Regions from separate parts of the Homo sapiens genome. Here all the other regions are reported to be linked to region 1. Evidence: microRNA targets listed by miRTarBase, many of them from high-throughput screens and not tested one by one. Region 1 holds a microRNA gene; each other region holds the end of a gene's coding sequence. Distances are between the middles of the regions.
What was found. Region 1 holds the annotated microRNA hsa-miR-4793-3p (UCUGCACUGUGAGUUGGCUGGCU, at 1,742-1,764, opposite strand). A microRNA usually pairs through its seed, bases 2 to 8, with sites in the 3' UTR of a target mRNA and lowers its output. Matches are read on the target gene's strand: a 7mer-m8 pairs with bases 2 to 8, a 7mer-A1 pairs with bases 2 to 7 and ends in A, and an 8mer does both.

Region 1 (4,149 bases):
CATTGTCCCTGGAAAAGCAGGAGCCCCCCCACCATGAAAGAGGGATGTGATGGGGTGCCTTGGAGGCTGGAGTGTCTTTGAGTGCACAGCCAGCTGCGGGTGGAATGGCATCCCTGGGTGTGTGTGGTGGGAAGCATTTAGGGCAGAGGCAGAAGCAGGGCCCCAGATGGCCAAGATGGGTGGAGCCACCCGCCCTAGGACCTGGTCAGCCAAGCCCTGGTAAGGTGGGGCTGGACTAAGCTGAGTGTTCCCTCACAAGGAGGCTCTTCCTCTCACCTGAGGTAGCTGCGGCCCCGCTGGCTGTCCTGGTCCTGGGTCCGGCCGGAGCGGGCACTGCTCACAGAGGAGACGGTGGAGGCGCCCAGAGTGATGCGGATGAGGCCACTCTCCTCAAAGAGAGCCGTGTTGTTGTAGGCCCCAGGTCCCTGGGGGTGGTAGGGACAGAGTGTGAGCTAACCCTGAAGCAGCCTAAAACTCTGGCTTCTCAGGGCCCCCATCCCGACTCACCAGCCCAGGTGCTGGCCTTGCCTCCTCAGGCGCTGCCTTCCTGCCCAGACAGGCTGGCATCCAGGCAGCCCGAGCATCTGCATTTAGGACACAGAAGAGCAGCAGCACCGCCAGGCCCTGTGGGTCAGCGAGGGTCAAAGCAGAGTCGGCAGGGATCAATCAGGGACCAGTATAAGTCACTGTGGGTCAGCAATGGGGTCAGTCACTGTAGGCTAGTGTGGGTCAGTGAGGAGCCCATGCGGGACTCAGTAAGGGAGTTGGGGAAGGTCAGCAGGGGAGAGGATGGAGCAGCAGGAGTGGCTGGAGTCTGTAAGGTCGGTGTGGATCAGCAAGGGGTCGGGAGCCTTGGTGTTGGTGAAGGTCGATCCAAGATCAGCACTCAGTCTGGGATCAGTGCCTAAGTTAGAGTCAGCTCCAGGCCTGGGGGCAGCAGCTAGGGCCAGTGTCTGGTCTGGGGTAGTACCCAGCCTGGCAAAGTTATCCAGTAAGAGTCAGCTCCAGGCCTAGGGTCAACGTCTGCCTAGGGATGGCCCCAGCCTACTGAAGGCCCACCTGGTTCTGGGGCAAGGGAGGGGCACCAGAGTCACCTGGAGGCCGCAGAGTCCAGCATGGAGGTAGTGGAAGGCTAGGATGCTGTGGTTGACTGCCAGGAGCCCAAAGAGCCAGGAGGCACTGACCAGCAGAAGCAGCAGGAAGGAGCTGCGAAGGGTCCTGCTGTGGGGACATGGGAAGACACAGGAGGACATGCAAGGCTCATGTAGGACTCATGCAGGGAACACGGGAGGACACACAGGGGCCACACACGAAACGTGAAAAAAAGGAACTCACACGGGAACATGGAGGTCTCTGGAGGACACTGGGGGAGATGGGAGGTCCCACAAAGAAACAGGAGAGCAGTCAAAGAGCCATGAGGACACGTGGGGAAAACACAGGGGTATGGGAGCCACAAGGGAGGGCACGGAAGACAGGTGGGAACACACAGGGCAGGGGGCAAAGTGAGCCACCCAGGCCATGGGAGACTCTGGGGGGACCCAGAGGACAAGGAGAGACAGCAGGGCAGAAGCACATGTGGGGCTACAGTATAGCGAGGGCGCCAGAGAGGGACCACAGGTCAGGGCAGGTGTGACTTCATTCCTTCATCTAGAACTTGGAGCCCAACCTGCACCAGGGAAGATCTGGGGGCCCCAGACCCCACCCAGGAGGGACCTGCCATCCTGAGAAGCCCCCTTCCTCCAGCCAGCCAACTCACAGTGCAGAGGTCTTCTTGGCCTCCCTCTGCCCTGTGGAGCAGGATGTGCGGGCAGCGAGGAGAAACATGGTCCCGTTCATCTGGACCCACGGCCAGACATGTGGGGCCGGGCAGGGCAGAGAGAGAGAGAGAGAGAGAGGCAATGAGAGACAGAGAGAGACTAAGATTCACGGAGAGAGGCAGAACCAGTGAGAAATTCACACATATACACACACACCAAAGGAGCTTAGCATCACAGAAAAAGAAATTGGGAACCAGAGAGGGACTGAGAGAGAGAAGCAGAGACAGAGGCAGGGACAGGCAACTGAATCTCTGACCCCGCGCCCCCATCTCCATGCCAGTTGAATGGGGGTGGCTACTGACCAGAGGACAGAAAAAATGAAGGCCGAGCCCAGGAAGCCTGCAGAATGCCACCTGACCGCCCTCAGCTGAGTCCACTGCACCTCCTCCCCCAATGAGGGAGGGAAGTACAGAGGGGGCACCAAGTCCAGGGCACTCACCACTATGACCAGGACAACAGGGCCAGCAAAGCTCCAGATGAGGGGCTCGTGGACTGAGATCCAGCAGAAGTCAGGGTTCCCATAGCCCTCAGGGTCCAGGCCCACAGCAAGGCCTTGGGAAGAGAAAGGGTAGGACTGAGGGTGTGTGTTCCAGAGCTGCTGACCAGCCCATGTATGGGAGAAAGCATGGGTGAGGGCAGAGCAGCAACCCCATGAATAGATGGCTTGGGGTTTGAGGTTGGGGGTCATGAGCAGGAGTGGGGACAGGGTCAGGGGTCAGGCCATGTGATGGTTGGAGGTTGGGGGTCACAGCCCTCACCCAGCAGCACAGCAGGGACGCCCCAGCCCAGGGCATGGTAGAAGCGCATGGCGCCGCGGTCCACGTTGCGTGGCTCAACCTGCATGCGGTAGAGGTGCAGCCCCTGCACGAAGAGCCACGCGAAGGTGCTGAGGAAGAAGTAGTGCAGGAGGATGGCGACTGCAGTGCACACCAGCTGAGGGCAGGGGGGCGTGTCAGGACCTCTCCTGCCTCACCCACCTCTGACCCCTACCCCAGGCATCTGCTTCCCACCTCTCACCCCTAAACCACAATATCTTACCCCAGCATCCTGCTGAAAACCCTGGCCCCAACCTGAGCATCCCTGACCTCTGACCCTGAGTTTTGGCCCCAGGCCTCCTGGGCCAGTAGGGTCATCAGGACACAAGTTCCCTGGCCCTGATCCTGCACCTGATTGTGGGTCCTGTGAATCCCCAGCAGGAAGAGGAGCTCTGCCACCCCCAGGGCGGCTGCCACATTGGCATGGATCCCACGCACATTGGACTTGAGGCTGCGCAGGCTCAGCAGGATGGCTGCAGTCAGCACCAGCGCAGCCACAGACACAGCCACGACCACGTGGGTGAACACAGCCAGCAGCTCCAGGTCGCCCTCCAGCCTCTACAGAGACAGGGATGGTTGATGGGTTGTTGGGCAGAATCCCCGTGTCCCTTTGACCCCCCACTTCCTTGGGACACTGAACACAGCCCCACCTCACGGGGAGAGGCATCCATGAGGACCCCAAAGGTCCCTGTCCGGCTGCAGCGACACCGTGCGTGGGACCCATTCCTGTGCACCAGCTCGCAGTCCCGTGCTGTCCACACACCATGCTGCTCCGCCCTGCAGCCACAGGGCAGTTAGACACAACTGTGACCCAGTGTCAGGCAGGGGTTTGTGAGAGATCATGGGAAGGGCTGAGGGTGCCTGGAGTTGGGGTACAGCATTCCTCATGGTCCGGGTTGCACAACAGCACTAGTGGGGGCCCCAGGGGAAGGCTGGGACTATTAGTTGGCCTCCCAAGGGCTAACGGGACCAAGGGTTTCCAGAATGGGGGTCCTCACAGGCCAGGTGGGTCCCACTGCACACAGATCGCCTTGCTCCGATTCGCTGTCTGTAGCAGGCGAAACTCTAGGCTGATGGGGGACTCCAGGATTCCCCTTAGGAAGTTGCGTCCGTGGAACACAGCCACGCTGACCACCGGGGAGTTCATGACGGGGTTCTGAGGAAGCCTGGGGAGACACCCATCTGGGCTTACGCACTGCTGACCTCCCCATGCTCAGCCTGCTTGCCTCACCCCGTCTTCATGCCACTCGCCAGGGCTGACCCAGGGTCTGGGATGTCCCCAGAGTGGAAGCTGTTTCTAAGAATCCCTCCAGCTTCTGCTGGGCTGCTGAGGGGCTGAGCAGCTCCAGGGGACCTGCAACTGTTTGCCTCTGATTGCCCTCCCTCCTACCCCCATCAGTCAGCCTGTCCTTGTCTGTCTCTGTCAGCCCTTTGGTCTGTCTGTACCTGGCTCATGGATCCCTCCTGTGTGTGGCTCTGTGTCTGTCAGCCTGTGGCTCTGTCACTCTGCACAACTC
Region 2 (4,000 bases), not on the chromosome of region 1:
AAAAATATACTCTTGTGACATGAAAACAACCAGCTTTGTAGTTCATTTCTAAGTCAACTGATAGCATTCTGGACTCTTGATTTGTTTTTCAAAATATTTCCTTTAAATGACAGCCTTACTCTGTGCCTGTTTCCCTGACAGGGGTCAAGACTTGTGGTCTGGATTTTTATTATTTGGCCTCTTCACATACTCCTTAAAGTGTGTGCAAAGCCAGGGCAAAGTACAGTGAGTGCGCTGAATAGGGAATCAGGAGGAGACATTTGGCAGCTTTCCTGCAGAAGCTTAAGCCATCTCAGAGTCTAATGAATATCCATGATGGATGAGGAGATGGCAACAGAGGCATTAGTACTTACTTACTGTTAGGCCAATTGTGGATTAAAGTTTTATTGAATTTTTTCAGTTGTGGAATGATAGCTATTTTTATAATCTGAATTGATTAAAAACTTACCTTATTTAGAAGAATTTGGTCTGTTTTCCGTTTATTTAAGGGCTTTGGAATTTGTTACTGAAAGATGAAAAAAGGTTTTCATTAGAATTTGTTAGTGAAACAAAATCAAGAATCACCCCTCTCTTCCCCAGAGTTCCAAGTAACATGGTCTTGCCCATGTTAGACACATGCTATGTCTTTCTCATCTAATCTCTTTTAATGTAATTTGCAGGAAAGTGCAGATCACCTTGCACATGAAGTGAGCTTGGCAGTATTTCAGCTGGCTGGAGGAATTGGAGAAAGGCCCCAACCAGGTTTCTGAAGATAATTTTCATATTCCTGAGAAACTGGACTTTTTACAAGTCTTTACAAAACTGTCAATAATAATGGCAGTACTAAGAGATTTATAATCATAATGTTTACAATGCAGCCTACTGGATTGTCTCTAGATCTGTTTTTCTTAAACACTAACAGAATAATTCTTTATAAATAGGTAAGCCTTACACTTGTTAAAGAAATTTACCTCTAATTTCAGTCTCACTAATGTAAAATACTGGGACTTAAGTATACAATTCAGTCACTAACTGTACAGTTTTATGTGGGGAACAATTCATGCAGGCTACTGGAAAATTAAATCTTATTACCAACTCCTTGTGATATCTTTGCCATCACCATCACATGAGCAAGATGATGTTTTGCAGCATTCCCCATTGCTGATACAAATGGAGAGGGCAGAGAAGACTTTATACAACCAGTTTTTCCATTGCAGAGTCTTAAGAAAGATTATTAGATGACTTACCTATATGACTAATGCCATCAGGAACTCAGAGGTATGAATAGGGGGTTGTCCATCCCTCTTCCATACTGAGGTGGAGATGCTCATGCAATACTTTTAAGGATGCATGGTCCAGCCTTCAGTTATTCTTCACTGCTCTTGGTGAAGGTATGTGGGAGAAAAACTAATTATAATACGTTTCCCAGCCTCTGATGGAGAAGGAACACCATTCTGATACCAGAACATGGTTAATAAGGAAAAGAGAAAAATCCCCAACCAATCTTAATTGAACCAAGTCTGAAACCAATGGAAAAAAAAAATGGGTAGTGTATATTTTGCAGGTTTAAGACAACTCAGGACAATAAAAACAATGGACTTTACATGTGTATATATATAGCTCTCTTAGGCACCATAATCAGTATGAGCCAACAATATTTAAACTTGATTCAGGCCACATTCAGACATTTGCTCTTATATACAAATATTTAAATTAAATACAATCTGAAATGTGTTCTGTTACATACAAAAAAGGAAAAACTATACAACGCAGAGCAGTGTGTGTGTTTTAAATAATTACATTTACATGTAAGCTAAATGGAACCAGCAATGGTGCTCAAGTTTTTATCATCCCTTCCAGAAAATCTTTTTCTACCATCTCTTCTATTTTTTGCCTGGCTTTGCTGGAACATGGTTTGTGGTTCTCCAGTTTCATGTCCTTATTAGGGAAGGCATTTGAGTAGAGGATAGGACTCCCTGAGTGTCCTCCACATCGGCTTGTGACTTTGCTGTTGAAGACTTGACTGAGCACATTGAAGAACGGCAGGAGCTGCTCCATACTGCGCACGGTGCAGATGGTGAGCAGCAAGTGCCCTGGCTCCCAACCCAATGTTCTCCCTGAGTTGTCTTCCTCTGGATTTTTCTGCAGAAAACAAAAAGTGAACTGGTATTAATACAACAGACAATGTGGTATGTTAGAAAAATTAAAAATATATAAACTTTGGCAATTGGTCAAGAAATGAATACAAATGACATTAAGTTTCTAACTCCTGACCTGATCAAAACCCTTGGTGCTTCTGAGACCTTTTACTGCCATTTATTAGTTTTACATGGAGCAGTCTAACATTGTAGTAATAGTTCCCAACTAGAATGCGCAGATAAGCTTAGTTAACAGAAATAGCTTTGAACAGGAATAGAGTCAAACATAAAAGTTTTATGTTGTGCTTTGTATTTACTCAAAAAGCTCCCAGGTTTCTGAACCCTCACTACTGTAACCAAGGACTAGGTCACAAAATTACTACAGAAAAAAGGAACAAAGTGCTTTATACATTTCATAATATATCCCCTTTTATTATAATTAGTTAATTCCCTTTTATCTAAATGGCCTAAATTTGCCATGATGGTAGCAGTGTCCAAAGTGAATAATTACTGTCAGTACTGCATCACAGAGAAAGGAAGGGATCCCTCAGGAGACACTGCTGTCTCCTTCTGGGTTGTGCTAAACAACATAGGGAGGAAAGCTGGACCTGGAGTCAAAGGAATTGAGTTAGTGTGCTGGCTCTGCCATACTTACGGCACCCTTGGGCAGGATATACAAAGGTTCCTCACTTATAAAATGGGACAGTCTAAAACTACCTTTTAGTAGAGAAGTCAAATGAGAAGGTATGTGAAAACTCTGTCAACTAAATATAAAGACTAATAATTTGGGTATTAAGAGGCTAGTTTGAGAAGCCACCTGAATTACACAAACACAGCTACAGACATCATTCTGTCTAGAGAAAGATAAGAGAGAACAGGTTGGTTGAACTTGGGCAGAATCACAGATACAATTCCACACTAAAGAATGAAAATAAGCAATGAACTAGACAGAAGGAAGAAATCATGAAGACTTAGGAAGCAGAATTACAATCTGTCATATTAACAAATGGAGTTTGCCTTCTAAGATCAGATGTTGCTCAGAAACTTTCATTGTTTACCTAATAATTTAATATCACTAGTTTCCTAGTGGGTCAAGCAGATGCAAAATCCAGCTTATTTTCTTCTATGTGCTCTCAAGCTTATTGCTTATTTTAAAGTAAAATCCTGAAAAAGGAAAATATTAGGTTGGTGCAAACGTAATTGCGGTTTTTGCATTGTTGAAATTTGCCGTTTTATATTGGAGTACATTCTTAAATAAATGTGGTTATGTTATACATCATTTTAAGCATATTTCTCACTTTTTTTTTGCTAATGACTTATTGCTGTTTATATTTATTTTAGACTATGGAAATGATGTTAGACAAAAATCAAATTTAGCGATTTTCTGAGTTCAAAATAGGTTATAAAGCAGCAGAGACAACACACAACATCAACAATGCATTTGGCCCAGGAACTGCTAATGAACATACAGTGCCGTGATGGCTCAAGAAGTTTTGCAAAGGAGACTAGAGCCTTGAAGATGAGGAGTGCAGTGGCCAGTCATCGGAAATTGATAATGACCAATTGAGAACATCATCGAAGCTGATCCTCTTACAACTATAAGAGAGCTGCCCAAGAACTCAATGTTGACCATTTTATGGTCGTTCGGCATTTGAAGCAAATTGAAAAGGTGAAAAAGCTCAATAAATGGGTGCCTCATGAGCTGAGTGAAAAATAAAAAAATTCGTTGTTTTGAAGTGTCATTTTCTCTATTCTATGCAACAATAATGAATCATTTCTCTATCGGATTGTGATGTGTGCCAAAAGGTGGATTTTATACGACAACTGGCGATGACCAGCTCAGTGGCTGGACTGAAAGAAGCTCCAAAGCACTTCCCAAAGCC
Region 3 (4,000 bases), 120 Mb from region 1:
CGCGTCCCAGGTTCAAGCGATTCTCCCCTCAGCCTCCTGAGTAGCTGGGATTGCAGGCGCGTGCCACCACATCTGGCTAATTTTTGTATTTTTAGTAAAGATTGGGTTTCAGCATGTTGGCCAAGCTGGTTTTGAACTCCTGACCTCAGGTGATCCCCCAACCTTGGCCTCCCAAAAGTGCTGGGATTACAGGCCTGAGCAAGGCGCCCAGCCCTGAGCTATTCTTACAGGTAAGAAATGATGCTAGTGGAATGTTAAAGAGTGAAGGAGATTTACTGTCTTCGTTACAACTTTCAGAAATGTAACGGGTAGTAAGTGTTCAAACATTTATAGTTATTTTTCCTGTTCCCTGGAAGTTGTCTTACAAACCACTCTGAGAAATTCTGCTTTAGAAAACTGTAAAGAAAGTAGCTTGTTTTGGAATACCCCTTTCAGAAGTCCATATGTACAAAATATCCACAAATATACAATATATGAGGAACTAATTATATCTTCTATATGTATTGTCTTCTGAATAACGTTTTGCCTGCTTTTTTCCTTCTAGGTGTCTGTCATGTGTGCAATGAGTGAAGAATATGCTGTAGCCATAAAACCCTGCAAATAAACGGAAACATCAGGCATGAACACTGTTTATGTCTGAATCAACTGCAGATCTAATTTGGTTCTAAGTTGTCACCAAAGCTATAGCCTTCATAAGCAACCTCATTTCTTTTTTTAATTGTTTTCAGATTGTGCTGGGTTAGTTTTGCAAGCAATTGATAATTTTTAAAAAATTATCAATATGTATAATTTTTTTTGAATTTTGTAGATATGTTTCCTATAATATTCCTGTGGTTTTCAGTATGTCAGTCCAAGAAACAAACAAGATAGCTTCAGCAGATGTGATTTGTCTGAGCAAATCATTCCTGTGTTTTAGTTAGATGATAAACCAGGGTTTTAAATCAAACAATGTAGCATAAAGTGGTATTGAAGTACCATATTTAAGTTGAACTGCTCTGCATTAATTACAGATTTAATATAAAATGAACTGATTATATATTGGAATTGTTGCACTTTCAGCCTGTGTAGGGCAAACACAAATCCTTAAACAAAAATCATGTTATCAAAAACTGTCAGTTATTTTGGTGGCCACATGCAACCATGTGATTACTTTGGTCATACTATTTACCAAATTGTTGGCAAACTTGATGTAACCTTATATGGTGGTTTTAGTCCCTTCTTATGGTTGGCAGAAGGGCACTGAACTGTTGGGTGAAAGTTAGTTAGCAAGTAAGATTATAAGGAAGACACAAAAGACAGTGGCAAAGAGGGTTGATTAAATCTATAAGTTTTTATGTGAGGACTTTGTAAGTCAGCATAAAAATGAAAAGTTGTTTCTCAGTTGTTTTTGCTTTTAACTTTGCCCCCAACGTTTAAAGGGAGTGATCTGCTTTACATGATACTATGCAATGCTTGTTTTCCAACTATGTTGAATAAATAGTAATATTTATCAGTAAATACTCCTTTCCAACTTCCTTTTTTTTTTTTTTTTTTTTGAGACTGAGTCTCACTCCATCAGCCAGGCTGGAGTGCAGTGGTGCAATCTCGGCTCACTGCAACCTCTGCCTCCCGAGTTCAAGCAATTCTCCTGCCTCAGCCTCCCAAGTAGCTGGGACTACAGGTGCATGCCACCACGCCCAGCTACTTTTTTGTGTATTTTAGTAGAGATGGGGTTTCACCATGTTGTCTAGGCTGGTCTTGAACTCCTGACCTCAGGTGATCCACCTGCCTCAGCCTCCCAAAGTGCTGGGATTACAGGCATGAGCCACCACACCCAGCCCCTTTCCAACCATTTCTAAGTAGATTTTTTGACATTAATGTATTTATTAAACAAAAACTGAGAATTCCTTAAATTGATTTGGAATTTTTGTTAATTTTATGTCCTTTTTTTCCTAAAGTGAATTAAAGTGAATCATGGAAGCAGCATTACTTTATATGAATATTATTATTTAAGTTAAGTTATTTTAAGTATATGCATTTTTTCTGATTGTTGTGTGACTTAATTCAGTTGCTGGTGTGAACTATAACTAGCAAATAATTCTATAAACTGAATTATTTTAAAAGGTATTTTAGGTGACACCACTGCATTTCTATTTCATCTTTTGAGTCATATGTATATTATTTCCAGAATTTTAGACATTATTACAGGGTTTGTGAGGACCTTTGACTCAGTGACAATCATCATATTGGAGCAAAACATAGAACAAAATCACTATCTCAGAAATACCTTAATTCTCTAAGACTGGCTCTTAGACCTCTCCCATCATGCCTTGACCTCTAAAAAGCCCTTTGTTCCTATCTTCTAAAGGAAAGTATATCATATATGATGATGTAACTGATCTAATCAGTGACTGGAAATAGCATTAGTAACAGAAGATCCCAAGTTTTAGTTGCTTAATTTGTACACACTTTTAAATATTGTCTTAGCCTCGGCAAACCAATTTGGGGAAGAAGCAAGATACTTTAAGAGAAATACAAAGGAAATTTCTAAAGCACAAGAAATAGTGAGGTAGTAGTTAGTCGTCTTTCCTACAACATTTTAGCTTTTGCCCATCTAAAGCACAATTAAAATTAGGCTACATTCTTTCCAGTATTCTATTTAAGTACCTACTACATACTGCTCTAGTTTCTTAGTACTCTGTAATGTGTATCTTAATTGCTACTGGTTGGCATTGTAACTCATAGGAATTCCAGAAAATTATTAATCCGTGCTGCTTGCAGTTCATTCATATGGCCCCTCTTAACCATGCTGGTGTTATGATTCAGTATTAACTCTCAATTAGCATGCCCCTGTTCTTCCTAACTTGTAAAATTTCACATAAATATATTTTCAATTGTGTACAAATTAAGGGTGTACAAATTATAATAATGCATCTCTATCTTCATACTTTGAATGGCAAACGCTATTTATGCATAAATATTTTCATTTTAAGTAATATATGAAGTGTAAATACTCGATATATAAGTATAGATTTTAAAGATATGGGACTTTATTTTCACATAAGTCAATAGATGTTTCTCTAGAACAAAATATTTAGTAAAGCTTTATAAATTATATTAAAAGGAAGCGGGGAACATGTATTTTTTAACATAGAACAGAAGTGACTTCATTCTTTTTAGACATCAGAAATGTTAAAGTTGATTCCCAATATTTGTTGTACTTTTTTGTAGCAAATGTTAAAAATCACGAGTTACCATGTATAGAATGTGGACTGTCATGTTGATATCATTGTACAGTGATAAGCCATTTTTATCTGTATACATTTCACCAATTTATTAACAGGTTGAATATTTGTTTCTTTTTAGAACATTTTATTTATACTGTGAAGACTTTGTTATACCTTATTTGCTACAACATAGATCATATCATTGCTACTTTGACTTAGCATTTGCATCATAAACATAATTATGATGTTTTTTTCATGCTCCCTTCCAGGGGCTCAGTCACTTGAAGAAACTGTTGCTAACCAAGCTCTTGACTCTGTTTCCCTTAATGATACAAGTCTCTGTACCAGCGCTTTATGTTAATTACCAAAACTCTCCTGCATCAGAGCATGATATCTATAATAGGAGATACTGCAATAAAATGATTAGGCTGTAAAATTTGGAGACACAATTTTTCATTACAATGCAATTTGCATGTGCACATGTGCGCACATAACTTTATATGTTAGTTCTTTTTTCCAAACTCCCAACTCTTAAAAGTATTGTAGTCTGTTGGTGCCTCAACTGTTGGTAACTTTTTTTTTTTAAATTTACAACTTTCCACAACTTGTTTTTGTACTTTAAGGTTTCTCAATTAGAATATTTCTAGTTGAGCTGTAATTTGAATGCATTGTTCTCAGGGCTATTTGTGCTAAAAGCTGAAATTTCATTATTTTAAAGCTAATTGCCTGAAAATATATTGGCAGAATTTTCCCAAATTGTAATAACTGTGATACATGCATATAAAAAAATCCTT

Region 2: miRTarBase lists PGM3 as a target of hsa-miR-4793-3p. Seed matches in the 3' UTR shown: 7mer-A1 at 2,048-2,054 and 7mer-m8 at 3,643-3,649.
Region 3: miRTarBase lists EIF5A2 as a target of hsa-miR-4793-3p. Seed matches in the 3' UTR shown: 7mer-m8 at 1,568-1,574.

What each region holds. Positions count from the first base shown.
Region 1 is chr3:48,642,460-48,646,608 of GRCh38, forward strand. MIR4793 (microRNA 4793) reads right to left here and starts at 1,821; the gene lies at 1,735-1,821. CELSR3 (cadherin EGF LAG seven-pass G-type receptor 3) reads right to left here. Exons shown (of 35, transcript NM_001407.3): 22 at 3,631-3,798; 23 at 3,283-3,409; 24 at 2,984-3,190; 25 at 2,576-2,750; 26 at 2,257-2,369; 27 at 1,757-1,836; 28 at 1,095-1,218; 29 at 508-624; 30 at 277-425; 31 at 1-8.
Region 2 is chr6:83,165,983-83,169,982 of GRCh38, reverse strand. It overlaps PGM3 (phosphoglucomutase 3), which reads left to right. Exons shown (of 13, transcript NM_015599.3): 13 at 660-4,000. The coding sequence ends at 749. DOP1A (DOP1 leucine zipper like protein A) reads right to left here. Exons shown (of 39, transcript NM_015018.4): 39 at 1,512-2,121. The coding sequence ends at 1,816. Among named protein-coding and RNA genes, the nearest start is that of PGM3, 25 kb to the left of the region's middle.
Region 3 is chr3:170,889,964-170,893,963 of GRCh38, reverse strand. It overlaps EIF5A2 (eukaryotic translation initiation factor 5A2), which reads left to right. Exons shown (of 5, transcript NM_020390.6): 5 at 545-4,000. The coding sequence ends at 604. Among named protein-coding and RNA genes, the nearest start is that of EIF5A2, 17 kb to the left of the region's middle.